4 linked regions of the Homo sapiens genome follow. The protein of the gene in region 3 interacts with the protein of the main gene of each other region in a biochemical or structural test. Each region holds a gene or a part of one and is shown on either strand. Other genes may lie near its edges. The genes, in order: OPRL1, OPRK1, GPRASP1 and CHRM2.

What was found.
Region 1: the proteins of GPRASP1 (region 3) and OPRL1 form a complex in vitro, tested with the Homo sapiens proteins (one study listed by BioGRID and IntAct).
Region 2: the proteins of GPRASP1 (region 3) and OPRK1 form a complex in vitro, tested with the Homo sapiens proteins (one study listed by BioGRID and IntAct).
Region 4: the proteins of GPRASP1 (region 3) and CHRM2 form a complex in vitro, tested with the Homo sapiens proteins (one study listed by BioGRID and IntAct).

The regions. Positions count from the first base shown.
Region 1 is NC_000020.11:64,096,740-64,101,252, reverse strand, and holds the end of OPRL1 (nociceptin receptor), read right to left. Parts: intron 3,452-4,513; coding exon 3,096-3,451; intron 2,978-3,095; coding exon 2,454-2,977; coding exon of another isoform or gene 2,367-2,453; 3' UTR 620-2,366; downstream 1-619.
Region 2 is NC_000008.11:53,248,693-53,253,212, forward strand, and holds the start of OPRK1 (kappa-type opioid receptor), read right to left. Parts: upstream 2,946-4,520; 5' UTR 2,756-2,945; intron 2,394-2,755; 5' UTR 2,346-2,393; coding exon 2,089-2,345; intron 1-2,088. UniProt on the Homo sapiens protein: G-protein coupled opioid receptor that functions as a receptor for endogenous alpha-neoendorphins and dynorphins, but has low affinity for beta-endorphins.
Region 3 is NC_000023.11:102,654,294-102,657,032, reverse strand, and holds part of GPRASP1 (G-protein coupled receptor-associated sorting protein 1), read right to left. Parts: coding exon 1-2,739. UniProt on the Homo sapiens protein: Modulates lysosomal sorting and functional down-regulation of a variety of G-protein coupled receptors. Targets receptors for degradation in lysosomes via its interaction with BECN2.
Region 4 is NC_000007.14:137,011,313-137,015,273, reverse strand, and holds part of CHRM2 (muscarinic acetylcholine receptor M2), read right to left. Parts: intron 455-3,961; 5' UTR 409-454; coding exon 1-408. UniProt on the Homo sapiens protein: The muscarinic acetylcholine receptor mediates various cellular responses, including inhibition of adenylate cyclase, breakdown of phosphoinositides and modulation of potassium channels through the action of G proteins.

The sequences.
Region 1 (4,513 bases), on a different chromosome or scaffold from region 3:
CTTGCCCATCTGCCCATGCCCTGGAGACGAGTACTTGGACTGGAGTGTGCCCGTGCCCACCCTCCAAAGCTGCTCTGTTTTGCAGGTCGGCCTGGGCTGAACTGGGCCAAACAGGAACCAGGAGGCAGATGTCCATGGCAAGAGTGTACCCAGCCCTAGAGGAGGCCGTCTGCTCATCCTTCACCAAAACTCCCCTCAGATCTGCTCAAGGAAGGGGAAATGAGCAGGAGCAGGGGTTCTTCTGAGATGAAATGGGGGTAAGAAAACCCTGCAACCTGGGTGGGAGCAGCACCCTCCCACTGTATCCTCAGGAAACCTCTCTTTCCAGGGGGCAGGGGAGAGGTGCAGCCATCGGTTGTTTAGAGAGAAACCGTGTGTGCTGAAGAAAAGGTAACAGCCCGGCCAACACACCATTAACTGGCTTCAACTCTCCCCAGGGTTGCAGCCTCCTGGGGGACGTTTCACTGAGGGCAGAGCCCAGCCTGTTGAGCAGCACAGGACAGGTACAAGAATTCAGCCTAAACCCATAGCCTCCTCCCACCCACGTGCCAATCCCAGAAAAGTCACTCCAGAAGCAAATCCCCAGGTGGCAGGAGCCAGAAACACTGGTTACAAAGAATACCCAGCCAGTGAGCAGGTGTTTATTAGGGTCCTTTTTCATTACCCCAGAGACAGACCCAGGGCTGGCTACGTGCACAGGAAGTAACGCTTGCCACATGCATAAATACGTGAAGGTGCACATTACATCAGCACAGATTCACAAAACACCTCGCCTTGGCAAGAAAACTGTAGCTAGGCAGCTCCCGTCCTCAGGGACTCCTGCCACAGACGTCATGGAGACAGCATGAGCCTCCCCAGAACAGTCCCCACGGCCTAGACTCCCCAGAGCAGGAGGAGCAGCCCAGGCTCTGTTGCGAGACAGCCATCACTTCCTGTTCTTTGCAGGTGCCTAAGGTAGGTTACCTGGCCAAGGTTTTGGTGGAAAAAATGAGTTTTTTCAATGTTGCAGGTCTTTTAATAGTTCATCTGTAGGAAGTGCATTTGCAAAGTCACCAACCTGCAGCTTCCATCTGTAGACCAGGAAGGGTGATTCTCTGGGTGACCACAGCGGGGCATCCCCTGAGGTACAGACGCCCCCCCCCCAACCCCCGCAGTGTCCTCACAGCCACCACAGCCTTTGCAGTTTGGCTCAAGCAAGCCCTGCCAGGCCCCACCCCTCATGCTGGCTCTGCTGTGAAGCCATCCTCCCGTTGGGCAGCAAGCTCAGGCCCTACACAGAGCCATCTTGAGGCTTGTAAATGAAGCAGGCGTCCCCAGAGCAGGACTCTGCTGTGGCCACCAGCTTCTCCTTCCACACAGCTTCCCCCGCAACACAGCACGGCCACTGACCTCTGGCTTCAAGCAAAGGAGAGGCTGTGAGGGGAGCCTTGGGAGGATGTGGGGACCCCCAGAGAATCTTCTCCCACCCAAACAGAGCAGTCAAGACCAGGAAAACGAGGCCTCCACTTTGTGAACAGAGCTGCCCATGTGGTCACGCGGCGCCTTCGTCCTGAGACACCTGCCCCACACTGAGAAGCAGGGCTGGGTTGACGGTCCACAGCATGATAGTTCATTGCACCGCTGGAGGGAATGGGCCAGGGCCTCTCGCTGGTCTCCTGAAGGGAAATGGGGGTTGGGCCCAGAGTCAAGCTGCAGTCAGGGATGAGGCCTGCACCGTGCAGCACACAGAAAACCTTCAGAGGTGCGGCTGGCCCAGGGCCAGCTCGGGGTCTGCAGCCAGGGACTGCCAGCCCCCACCTGGACACTTTCTCCTGGGGTGGCCCCGGCTGCACAGGTGGAGTCGGAACAGGCAAGTCCTCCAGGTGGCAGCTCCAAGCTCAGGGCAAGTCCCACCCCAAAGAAAAGCTGCCTGCTGCACTTCCCGGGCAGTGCCAAGCCTGTCCAGCTGCCCTGAGGAGACGTCACAGGGCTGAAGGCAGCTGGAGCCCTGCCATGCAAACAGCACACAGCACATGGGGGGCACAGGATGACACAGCTGCTGCTCCTCCTCCGGGTGCCTGCCCACCCAGGGTTCTGCCAACGCAGCAGCAGAGAGGCCAAGAGTCACATGAAGCACGGGGAGGGAGGGGCACGGGCTCCAGTCACGGCCGTCCACCAGCATGTCAGCTGCTTCCAGGTAGGTCCTTGTGTCCCCTCGGCCCTGCACCAGGAGGGCAGCTTTAGTCTGTCTGGGGCCATGGAGGTGGCCCTAATGCTTTGACCTGTCCCATGATGTCACTAGGTCCTCCTCTGGGACCGAGCATCCCTGGCCCACAGGGAAAAGCCCATCCCAGGCTCTGGATGCTCAGGGCCCAGGGTGTGTCCGCCTAGAGAGCAGTGACCTGTGTGAGCTCTGTGTTGGGCGTAGATGGGCTCTGCGGGCTGACAGGCACCATGGGCAGGTCCACGCCTAGTCATGCGGGCCGCGGTACCGTCTCAGAGGTCTTGCAGGCCAGGGCCACGTCCTTGGCAATGCTGCGCACGCGGTCAGACACCTGCACGTCCCGGCGCAGGGCAGATGCACAGCAGAACTTGCGGAAGCAGGCCTTGAAGTTCTCATCCAGGAAGGCGTAGAGGATGGGGTTGAGGCAGCTGTTGACGTAGCCCAGGGCCGTGCAGAAGCGCAGAATGGCCACGGCAGTCTCGCTGCTCGGCTGAACCCCCAGCCCTTGGGCCAGCACGAAGACCTGGACAGGCGTCCAGCAGCCCACGAACACAGCCACTACCACCAGCACCAGCCGAGTGATGCGCCGCAGGTTCCGGTCCTTCTCTCGGGAGCCCGAGAGCAGGCGGACTCCACGGAGCCGCCGGATCATGAGGCTGTAGCAGACAGAGATGACGAGCACGGGGACGATGAAGGAGAAGAGGAAGATGCAGATGGCAAACACCGGGCCCCAGTAATCCTGAGGGGTAGGGATCTCCACCAGGCACTCGATCTCTGCAGGGAGAGAAACGGGGTCAGAGTGGGCCCAGGAGACGTGGAGGGCACGTGGGCCCAGAGGAGCCACCCGGGAGCCAGGGAGCCTGGTGAGGGGAGGAGGGGACACCCCACTGACCTTCATCCTCGACCTGTGCCGAGCCCATGATGGCAACGGGAACACCGACAACAGAGGCCAGGGCCCAGATGGCCACATTGACAGCCTGGGCTTTGCTGGACGTGCGGACGTCGAGGGCACGGATGGGGTGGCAGATGGCTACATAGCGATCCACACTCATGGCAGTTAGGGTGAAGGTGCTGGTGAACATGTTGTAGTAGTCAATGGCAATGACTGTCTTGCACAGCGCATTCCCAAACGGCCAGAAGCCCAGGAGGATGTCCGTGCCCTGGAAGGGCAGCGTCAGCAGGACCAGAGTGTCGGCCAGGGCCAGGTTAAAGATGTAAATATTGGTGGCTGTCTTCATTTTGGTGTGCCTGCGGAGTAGAGGGAGAAGAAAGGCTTCACTTGGCCATGCTGGCTGGACCAGGCAGCAAAGGGCAAGGGGCTCCTCTTGGCCACCACAAGCTACAGTGGCCCTGAGTCCCTTAACATCAGAGTTCCCATGGGGGCTTGGTAAGTGATAGCTCCTGGACCCAACCTGAGACTCATGAGTCAGTCTCAGGGGGTAGGGCCTGGGGTCAAACGTCTTAACCAGCTCCTCAAGTGACTCTGACACACACAGAAGGATTCCAAGCCTTAAACACAGGTCTACTTTAGAGGAGTCAGGGCATGTAGGCTACCAGAACACACCCCGGATTCTGCACAGGAGCAAAGGTTTAGAGCCCTAAGGGAAAGAGTCTGCTCCCCTTGCTTTTGAGTCCCCTCCATGACCCCTCACAGACTCAAATGCTGACCCTACAGTTGCCAGAGGTTTCTGAGGGCTCCAGAATCTGTAAGAACATATCAAAAGGCTTCCAAGTCCACACTGCTGCCTAGCAATGGAGACCGAAAATGGTGACGGGGGGACAGGAGGGATGCTAATAAGGTATGAGTGTATCCAAGCACCTGAAATGGTGCTGGAAAGGGCTGGGAAAATCGTTGGTGATTAATAAATTTTTGTTAAATAAGTTAATGGTTGTAATAGTTGGGGGGGATTATGGTGGTGATGGTGGTGGTGATGATGGCAGTGATCATGGTGGTGATGGTGATGACTGTGAGCGTGATGGTAGTGGTGATGATGATGATGGTGATGATGGTGATGACTGTGATGATGGTGATGGTGATGATGGTGGTGGTGGTGATAGTGGTGATGGTGATGATGGTGGTGATGGTCGTGATGATGATGGTAATGATGGTGGTGGTGGTGATAGTGGTGATGGTGATGATGGTGGTGATGGTCGTGATGATGATGGTAATGATGGTGGTGGTGGTGATAGTGGTGATGGTGGTGATGGTCATGATGATGATGGTGATGATGGTGGTGATGGTGGTGGTGAGGATGGTGAGGATGGTGAATGTGATAATGAAGGTGCTGGTGGTGGTGATAGTGGTGATGA
Region 2 (4,520 bases), on a different chromosome or scaffold from region 3:
GACTTGAGTGAACTAGGTTCACTAGACATTAACCTTTTACTTGTGAAGACCTTAAAATGTATGTGCTCTAGCCATAAGTGAACTAGATAGATTTCAGTAGGTTGGTACTCCAGGATGGCAGTAGAACTCTTCGCTTTTCATTCATCATCAAACGTAACCTTTAAGTATTGGGAGGTGGGAGAATGGAGAATGATGTATGTGAACTATCCAACTTCTTTTATATTTTTAGCTGAACTTATCCCCTTATAACACACTTTAGTGTTGGATATATTTGGGAAATCTATCCATTAAAAATCCTAGCTAATCTACAGGATTTTTTTTTCCTTCTTACATGTCAAATGTTCCCCATGGAGTTATATTTGCACATAACATCTAAATGTTATTTTAGGATTCTTCATTCTTTTTAATCCTAGTCTGCAAAAGGTTGTAGAGCAACTACAAAGCTCTTTTCAAACTGCAGACTTCAGGGGCTCATTCAAATAACAATATGTATCTGTTTTACTTGAGCACCTAAATATGATATGGGTAGAAACAGAGCTATTTTTTTTCCTAGAGCTTTCTTTTGCTTAACAATGTTTCTATTACCCCACCACCAAATAAATAGCTTCTGTACCAAAGATCTCCTAAAATTTTTAATTAAAATTTAGAATACAGTTGTCTTTTCTTTTGTCTAATTGTCTCTTTAGTGGAGGCCAGCCCTGAGATTACTAATGACTTGGACAAACAATTTAATTTTAAAATATTCCTTCCTTCTATAACCTTTACTCATCATGGATAGAATTCCTGCGAAATGCAATAGGCAATTATGAAAACCAAGGGCACCAAGCTATAAACACTAGTTGTTGATGAAATGAGCTTTATAATATGTGTTTGGCGACTTAAATGATGGTTTTTAATGTCAGAGCATACATAGGAATAAAAGACCTGACATTCTCAAGCAAAAAAGTAAAAATAAAAATAAAGCAGTATTTTATTATGATAATTTTCCAAGAGAAACATTTATGCTACCATTCATGATATGGTTGTTAAAGTTCATAATAAATAAATGGCCTGTTTCAAAACTAAAATCAAGCTTAAAAAAAATCAGCTATTCATCGTTTCAGAGTCCCTAGCCAGGGTGACTTGCATCCCGCCCTTATTTCATAGAGACTTCTCAAAGGAACACAAGCTTCCTACTCCCTCTCACAGGTGTGTTGACAAAGCTCTAGTGCTCCCAGAAAAGGAAACACATCTATCTTAAGAAAAGTGCAGAACAAAGTTAGGTTTTCCTTTTCTTGTTTTTCTTTCTTAAAGTCAGAATCACTTTGCTTACCAAAAAATTAGCATATATGTGGATATTGGGATACTTATTATTGGAAGTTGACTTGAAGAAATTTCCACACACACACACACACACACACACACACACAAATAAAACCTTCAATTTCTCATGGTGAAAAAAACAGCGAAGTAGTTTTTGAAAATCTCCACAGGCCATGTTTTAGAGGATAAATATTATTTACTGATATTCCTAACAAATGGGATGCCATTTGATACTAAAAAGGCTCATATATGCATATCAACAACGCTAGAGCATATATCAGGTTTTGTTTCATAAGCCAAAACACCAGTCTGAGGAGTCCCAGGAAATTCGGAATTATCTTCAGTGCATTGGGTGGGCTTGAAATTTATCTTAAGAAATATTTGCAAAGGGCATAACAAAGTGCTCCAAACTGGCGCAGGCAAATGGATTAGTTCCTTTACCAGGAACCCCTGACCCTGTTGTCAGCACCCTGGCACCTTGCCCTGCGCATAGAGTTTTCAGCAGAAACACTGGGCCCTAGGGTGGGGTCGGGGGGTTACTCTGAAATCTTCCAGACGCCCCTGGCCGCTCGGATTCGCCTGTGTGAACCTCTCAGCACTCCACCAAAAACTCCCAGAAAATCCTTCACCTCTTCTAGGAAGCCACCCTGTAGCATTTCCAGGATCCTTCACGGAACAGAGTCCCCACCACCTGGCTGGCTGCCCCCACTGCTGCTCCAGTGGCGGGGCCTGACCCTCACTCCCTGCCCCGCCCAGCCCCCAGCGCTGCGCTGTCCCCGCGCTCACCGGATGATCACGAACATGACCAGCGAGTTGCCCACCAAGCCCACGACGAACACTACGGAGTAGACCGCCGTGATGATGACCGGGATGGCCGGGGAGATGTGCGCGGGCTCCAGCTGCGCGTCCTCCGAGCCGGCGCTGCCGTTGCTGTCGGGCTCGGCCCAGCCGGGAAACCAGGCGCTGCTGTTGGGGGGCAGGCAGGCGCTCGGGGCGCAGGTAGGGCCCGGCTCCCCGCGGAAGATCTGGATCGGGGAGTCCATGGTGGGGCGATTGCAGCAGGAAGGCGAGGACAGGCGGCACCTGCGGCGCTGCGGGAGCGAAAGAACCGGCTGGACGCGGAGAGGCAAACTTTGCCCGCGCCCTGGCCAGCGGCGCTGGGGACCCGGAGCCTGCGGACTCCCACCCGGGCCGCAAGTCGCCGGGGGCAGGACAGGGAGAACGGACTTCTCGCTGCCTTTCCGGCCAGCAGGCGCGCCGCTGGGTGCCAGAGAGGGGCGAAGAGCGCTCGCTCCTTCTCCCCCAGCCCCTGAGGTGCCTCCCTCACCAATTCTAGGCACCGGCCCCTGGTGGAACTGTCCCCAGACTGCCTGAGTCCCCAGGGTCAAGCCCCCTTCCCACCTCCCAGCACGGAGCTCTACCTAGAACTGCACCTCGAAAGCCCAAAGCTTACCTATGGTTCCCAGAGACAGGCGAAGGCGAGGTTTTTTACGGGACGCCCTGGTAGGTGCTGAACCGCGCGCTCACGAGTCCCGCTCAGCTCTTGGCATCACCTGCTCTCGGACCCCGGCCCCGCTCTCCGCCCGAGGGCTGCTGTTCCGCCGAGCGCAGCCCCCGCCTCTCAGCGCACGTCTCCCACTACTGGCGGCGGCTCTGCGGGGCGGGGCGGGGCGGGACCGGCGGGACGCAGCCGGGACGCGGCTGGGCGCTGGGGGCCTGCGGGCGGAGAGCTCGTCTGGTGCGCCCGCCCCAGGCCGGCAGGTCCCTGCCCCGCCCCGCCCGCCCGGAGTCAGCCCCCAGCTCCCCAGCCTCCCAGCCCCGCGTCCCCTCCAGCCCCGCAGGCTCGCCCGGCCCACTAACTGCCCGAGCGGCACACCGCCTGGTCCCCGGCCATGCAGCCTTCCCCAAGACCTGAGACTGAGCCATTTAGATTTAGTAAAAAGGAGGAGCATGCCTATTTAGTGCAAGTATGCACCTGGATTTTCATATTGTGTCTAGAACTTCTTATCTGCATAGTTCGCAGTCAGGAACTACGCTTATTAGAATGGCCCATCCAAAGAAAGTAACAAAATGATCCAGTTAGAATAAGACCAGTTCATAAAATAATGACTTAAAAGACACATAAATAGAATATTTCCTTGCGTTCTCTTCCATTCCGTCTGCTCTAACTGGGATGACAGGCTGCAGACAAACTGCACCTTACGGGTATTACCTGAATTGCTGATAGTATCTGAGAAGGGCAAAACACTCTCCTTACCCGGGCCTCAGTGGTGCTCCAGGGAGGTGACAGTGTCTCTGTTTTACATTAATCCCTGCAGCCATCACGTTCTCCTCACTTCTCCCTCACAGTAGGGCTGCCTCCATTATACGGCCGCGAATCTGAGCGTCCGTAAATAAACTGTCACCATCATTTCTTTGCAAAACTCTGCTAGTCCAAGGGTAGCTGTCAGATCCTGCTGAGTGAGAGACATTCTCTTCTCAGGCAAAGGGACCGGCAAGACACAAAGGGAGCAAGGGCTCAGCCCCTGAGGTGAAGGTTCTGAAAGGGAGTGGGGAAGTTCCCCTTCTCCACAGGGTACTGGAGACAGGCCTGGGGGAGACTGGGGGTTTAGGCACCTCAATTTCCCCAGTGGATTCACTGCCTCAGGCTGACAAACACAGGTCCCCACTGCATCCCACAGCTAATGTCCATGCCACACCTGGACACACTAATGACTGATACAGCCCTTCCCTCCATCAGCGGAGGGCAGAAGGGGGTTCCTGTCTCTTTCAAGACGCCATGACCCCAAAGTGGGATTTGACCACCAGCGTCTTGCCGCCTGGAGATGAACAACTCTTTTGAGCAGTGTAATATGAAGAGCATAAGGAAATCTTCCCTTTGTTCAACCATATCCCTTCAACCCTTTCAAATAATTTTGAAAATTATTATCAAGTCTTAGAGTTCTTTTAAGTCTGATTGCAAACTGTCATTGAAGGATCACATCTCCTTCAGTAACACATCAGACCTGCTGAGACCTCATAAGGGCCTCAGTAGTTTTATTTCATTTGAGCACTCTTACCTTTCTTGTTTACCAAATTAATGGCCAAAATAAAGGGAAGACAAAATGAACAGAGCATTGAGAAGCCCTCAGGTGGCTCAGGTTGCCAGGGGAACCCACTCGAGTCTCTAAATCCAGGAAGTATGGCTGCTTCTGTGGAGTCATGCTCTTAGGAGTATG
Region 3 (2,739 bases):
CGTGAAGGATCAGGCTCCTGTTCAACTGAACACGTGGACCTGCAAATGGCCCTGAACACGGGGCTAGGATTTGATTCAAAATGGGCCTCATCTCCTGCCCAGAACCAGGACCCCACTATGGCCTCATCTTCATCAGCTAATGTCCTGGACCCACAGTTGCTTCCATTGTCAGTCCTGTTATCTACCTCATCTTCAGCCTCAAACCAAGACCCAACAATGGCCCCTTCCTCATTTTCTGGCTTGGACTCACAGGTGGCCACAGTTCCAGTTTCCTTAATGGCTTTGTCTCTAGACCAGAACCAGGACTCAACAATCATCTCTTCATCATCCTCTGGCTTGGATACACAGCATGGTCCTGCTTCTTCACTGACTTCTTTTCCATCCCAGAACCAGGACCCAAAAATGGTTTCCTCTTCAGTCTCTGACTCCATTTCCTCTACTGCCTGAGATCCAGCCTGTATACTGGCTTCTTCTTCAGGCCAGAACCAGGACCCAACAGTGATTTCTTCCTCCTCAGTCCCAGGCTTTGACTCAAAGCCGACTCCTGCCACTGCCTCCGGACTGGCCTCTTCTTCCCAGAACCAGGACCCAATAATGACTTCTTCCTCTTCAGCTTTAGGACTGGATTTGCTGCAAGACCCAGCCTCTCTTCTAATGGTCTCTTCTCTGGCCCCAAACCAGGACCCAACAATACCTTCTTTCTCAGCTGCTAGCCTGTCTTCTTCTCTAGTCTCAGCAGCTGGCTCTAGTCTGTCCTCTTCTCCAGCCCAGAACCAAGAACCAATAATGTCCCCCTCCTCAGCTTCTGGCCTGGACTCTTCTCTGTCAGTAGCCTCTGAAATGGCTTCATCTTCTTTCCAGAACCAGGAATTGATTATGGTCTCCTCTTCAGTCAGTAACTTGGCCTTTTCTCCAGTCCCATCTATATTACTCTCTTCTGTAGCCCATAACCAGGACCCTATAATGGCCTCTGGCTTTGTGTATTTTCTGGACCAGAACCACGAATTGACAATGTCCTCTTCCTCCTCTGGCCTAGACTTCCAACTTCCTCCACCGGCAGGATACATACAGGGTTCTTTTTCTGCCCAGAAGCAAGACTTATTATTGGTCTCCTCAGCCCCTGCCATAAATCTGCATCTGACACCAGTCCCATGCTTCATACTGACCTCTTCTTTGGCTCCAAAACATGGTATCATGGCCTCTTCCTTGTCCTCCAGGCTAGACTTGCTGTTGACATCACCCTCCACACAAGCTTCTACTCTGGTCCAAAACCAGGACCCAATAATGGGCTCCTCCTCCTCAGCCCCTTGCATGGTGTCACAGCTAGTTTCAGCCCTACAATCCATATAGGTCTGGTTTTCAGCCCAAAACCAGGACCCGAATATTGTCTCTTCTTCAGCTCCTGGCCTGGCCTCTTCTCCGATTCCAGCCTCTATATCAACTTGTTCTCCAGACCAAAACCAGGGACCAATGACCTCTTCTTCCTCAGACCTTGTCCTGGACTCACAGCTGACCCCAACACCAGATTCCACACTGGCCGCATCAATGACCCAGAACCACGACCCAAAAATGGTCTCTTCCTCAGCCTCTTGGTTGACCTCTTCACCAGCCCAGAACCAGGAACCAATAATGACCTGTTCATCATCAGCTGCTAGTATAGATTCAGAGGTGGCCTCAGCCCCAGTTTTCATACTGGTCTTTTCCCTAGCCCCAAATAAGGAATCACCAATACGCTCCCCATCAGTCCTTGGTCTGGATTTACTGCTAGCCCCAGTCCCCATACTGGCCTCTTCTTCAGTCCAGAACCAACTCCCAATTATGGACTCATCCTCCACTTGTAGACTGGACTCTATGCTGGCTTCATCTGCCATGCTGGACTCGTCTGTAGCCCAGAACCAGGTCCCAATGAGGGCTTCCTCCTCTGACCTGGCTTCTTGCTTGGCCCTGGCTCGGGCCTTGGTTTTGGCCTCTTCCTTTGTCATTGCTCTGGCCCTGGCCTCTTTCTTGATCATGGGCCTTGAAAAGGTATTAGCATTTTCTTCAGGCCAGAAACAGGACTCTTTTTTAATTACATCTATAGACCCAGGCATGAAATCAATGCAAGCTTCTCGCTTGGCCCTGTGCCTGGCCCTGTTATTGGCCTCCTTCCCAGCTCTCATTTTGGACCTGAATTTGGCCTCCTTTCCAGCCCCAAACCAGGACTCCAAATGGTCTTCATGCTCAGATCCAGAACTTGATTCAACATAGACTTCTTTCTTAGACCTAAACCTGGACCTGCTATTGGGATCTTCCCTGGGCCCAGACCAGGTATTGGTTTTATCTCTGGCCCAGAACCAGGGTGTCTTAACAGACTCATCCTCAGAACCAGAACTAGATGCAATATAGAGCTCCTGGTTAGTTTGGGACCTAGACATGGTATTAGCCTCTTGATTGGCCATGTGCATGGATCTGTTACTGTCTTTTACCCTATTCCCAGGATGAAATTTTGCAGTGACCTCATCTCCACTCCAGAACAAGGAACTCACAGATTTGTCTACCCATTTGAAATCAGAATTAGGAGAGGCTTCTTGTTTGGATGTAGGCCTAGGACAGCACCAGGACCCCATATTGGTCTCCTCCTTTGACCTAAAAGAAGGCTGGAATCCTGCTTGGTAATGGGCCTTCCTTCTAGGAAAGCTCTCAGTGTCTGTATTAACCAGTTCTCTATCCTCAGACAGGTACTTTGTTTTAGCAACCAAG
Region 4 (3,961 bases), on a different chromosome or scaffold from region 3:
GGTCCGCTTGACTGGGTAGGTCAGAGGTTTTGTGACACAGAAGTACCTGTCAAAGCTGATGATGAGCAGATTCATAACTGAGGCATTGCTGACCACATAGTCCAGGGCTAGCCAAAGGTCACACACCACAGGTCCCAAAGGCCAGTAACCAATCACAGTGTAGAGGGTGTACAAGTTCATGGAGAAAACACCTATGATAAGGTCAGCACAGGCCAAGCTGAATAAAAAGTAATTGTTGACGGTCTGGAGGTGGCGGTTGACTTTAATGGAAACCATGACTAGGATGTTCCCGATAATGGTCACCAAACTGAGGGATCCAGCCACCAGGACAATAAACACCACTTCAAATGTCTTATAAGGACTTGTAAGAGCCAGGCTATTGTTAGAGGAGTTTGTTGAGTTATTCATTTTGCGTTCTCTAATCAGTAGCCAAGTAGCAAATAAACATTTAAACCTGCAAGGAAATAGAATAAAATTAACAAACATAATATAAACATTGGTTTAAAATACATAATGTTGTTTCTCCTTTTAAACCACATTATTTTCTCCCAAATCTCCCTTCCCCTGCATGATTACTGTGTCTACCTGCCTCAATTCCCCATGTAAAAAGCAAGACCTTCAAATGGAGGATTCAAAAGGACCTTTCAGGCTGGCAATGAACTTGAAGTCCAGTAATGTTTTAAATATGTCCTTATCCAGATATGAGTATCTATCTACCTACCTATCTACCTATATATCTCATCAATCCATGAAACTTAGCATAATACTGATAAATTGAATTAAATAAACCAAAATTACAAACAACACTTTCTAAAACATCAAGGGATTCCTGGAATAGACATAAAAATTAGTAAATTAGTGAGAGGACACAATTATAGAAGAAAGCATAGAATGTATAATATTGAATGTGTGACTTTTATAGTTAACAGTGCCTTTCCTCATGGAAGCTCTAAGCCTTTTTCACAATAACACTGAGGATGGTGAAAATAAAGATAATATAATAATACTTAATAGCCAGTATACTCTCCCTAGATGAGAATTATTTTCCTCTTGCCTCTATTTTATTTCATACTTGTAATCAGTATTACATAATCAGCATTTCCAATATTCCATATCTTACACAAGAATATTTGCTTATTAAATGCATATTGAACTGAAAAAGCCAAAATTATGCATAAGACTTTCCAAAGCATAAAGAGATTTCTGGAATAGACATACAAATTAATACATCAATAAGAAGACAAAATTATGGGAGAAAATACCACTTTTCTGAATGTTTTGTTTTTCAAACCACTATCAAATCTATTATCTTACTATTCTTTCTGCCAAACTTTTTGTTTTGTAGAAGGAACTAAGGCTCAGAAAGATGAAATCCCAGTTTGTTCAGTCATTCATTCTTTCACTTTGTGCTCACATATCTATTGAGCAGCTTCTCTTAATTAGGTGTTCTGGACGTTCAATGATGATTAAAACAAGGTCTCTGCCTGGTGGCAGACATGGGTTGATGAAGAAGCAATTATTAAACCTGAATGCACTTCTTGTTTCCCTATCCTGTTGTGTGTAAGTAAACACATAATCATCATTTTTGAGATAATATCATTGAAGTCTGATGACAATTGAGTGATCTTTCATAATGGAAAATGTATATTGGGGATTTAGAAAAGAAAGTTAAGAATTCATCAAAGAGATATGACACATTTCTGGAGAAACAGCATCTGAAGCAGAAACTAGCCCAAGTTCCACCTCTTTTTGAAAAAATTGCTGTGAGCTGTCAGAAAATAAGCATTGCTGAGAAATTAAAATTTGGGAATATTGATTAGTTTGGATGCTATTAATTACAAAGAAATGGGCAGTGGTTTGCCCTTGAAATCCATGTAGAAAATAATTTGGTAAGCAACTTCATAACACAAATAACATTTAAAAAAATAATTTTTTCTGCTTTGGAAAGTCAATTGTTTTCCAGTATTTTATTTGACAAAACCCAAATAATGGGATTTGGCCTTAATATAATAAGACCCAAAATTCAGAAGCCAGAAAGGAAAATATATGTAACTGTTGCATATTCCTTTAAAATTTTTGCATAGAGCAAAAAAGTCAAAATAACAATTGAGAAACAATATTTGTAAATTGCACGATAGAAAATTATCCAATGTCTTTAATATAATAGAGTTTTGGCAAAAAAGGAAAGATGAAAGATGAATAATCTAAAACATTGATGTAGTAGTTCAATCAAAGAAAAATTAGACATTAATGACTTTTAAACATATGAAATGATACTCAACCCCACAGTTTAAAGATGCAAATCCAGACAGTGAAAAACAATTTTCCATCCGTAGTATTAATGGTAGTGTTGAATACTTTTGGTGGGACTAGCGGGATAATCACCACGAAGGATAATGTATCTATATCTATAGAACTTTAAATCTGTATCTATAAAAATGTATTAAGAAACACTTGTCTCAGGAATGCCACATTTAGGAATGTGTCTTTCAGATAGAGTCATAAAAATGTACAAAGAGGTCTACTCAAGTATGTTCACTCAGAAATGTTGTTATAGCAAAAAAATCCCGAGATATATTAAAACTATTCATTGACAAGGGATTGGTTAAATATATTATGGAATACTCTTACAATGGAATATTATGCGGCTAGTAAAACAGGTAGATATTTGTGTCCTGGCATTGCTGTGGAAAGTTATATAGTTAGAAGATGACATAATCATAGTGAGACATAGATTATTACAGAATATAATTTTATTTAAGCAAAAAGGTGATTATATGTAATATTACATATGTATGCCTGCAGCTCATTGGGAAATATTGAAGAGTTTAATCAGGGAAATGATGTTAATGGAATGCAACTTAGATCAGTTGAATTATTTTAATCGGATTTCCCTTTGACAATCCTTTTTTGCAATTAATCATACAATTGTATATTCATGGTAATTTATTTGAACAAAAACATTTTATTATCCCAGTTCTTATTCCAACAATTTCTTAATAGCTCAGCTAACTGTAAGATCAGAATTGTGACTTGCTTATAAGCAGCATTTTCTCTGTTTATTAGATAAATTCATGGACAGTTTGGAGTTGAGCTATATGTGTATCTGTTTCATGAAATGTTAATATTAATTCACTTAGTTTGAAAAATACAAAAAATGAATGTATTGACTCTGCATTTTAATTATTCATAATTTTGATAAAGCATAGGACTTATATTCTAGTTTTTAAAAGATTTTTGATAATTTCCTCTGGAGAATAATGAATAACACTGATGTTGAAAAGTAGGGATTCAAAATCAACTAGTTTGATGAGGATCTAAATTGCTAAGGTCCAAAATCCCCAAAATTACAATCCTGAAAGATTAAAATTCTGAATGTTGAAATCCTGAAAGCTGAATTCTGGAAAAGGGGTTGGCATTTCACTTGCATGCAGGATGGTCTCATCACATTGGCCTGCATCATGTTAGGTGGAACCATCACCTTGTTACTGCTTTTATTTGGAAATAACATATAGTTTGAGGAGATGTATATGAACACTAGGCTGACAAGTGGTGGACTTGTGAACTTAATTTTAGGTGTCAACTTGGCAGAATTAAGGAATACCTAGAAACCTGATAAAATATTAATTCGGATGTGTCTGTGAGGGTGTTTCCAGAGGCAATTCGTGTTTGAGTGTGAATGGACTAGATGGGGAATTTTGCCCTCAGTGTTGGAGTGCATCATCCAATTGGCCAGAGCCCAGTGAGAACAATTTCAGAAGGTGACTTGATCTGTCTTGGAAACTGTGATAGACTTTTCTTCTGCGGTCTTGGACATCAGAATTCCAGGCAGACCGGGCTTTGAACTCCAGGACTTACACCAGGAGCCCTAGGGTGCTGAAGCTTTCGGCCTCATTCTAAGAGTTACACCATCCACTTCCCTAGTTCTGAGGCCTTTGGACTTAGCCTGAGCCATGCATCC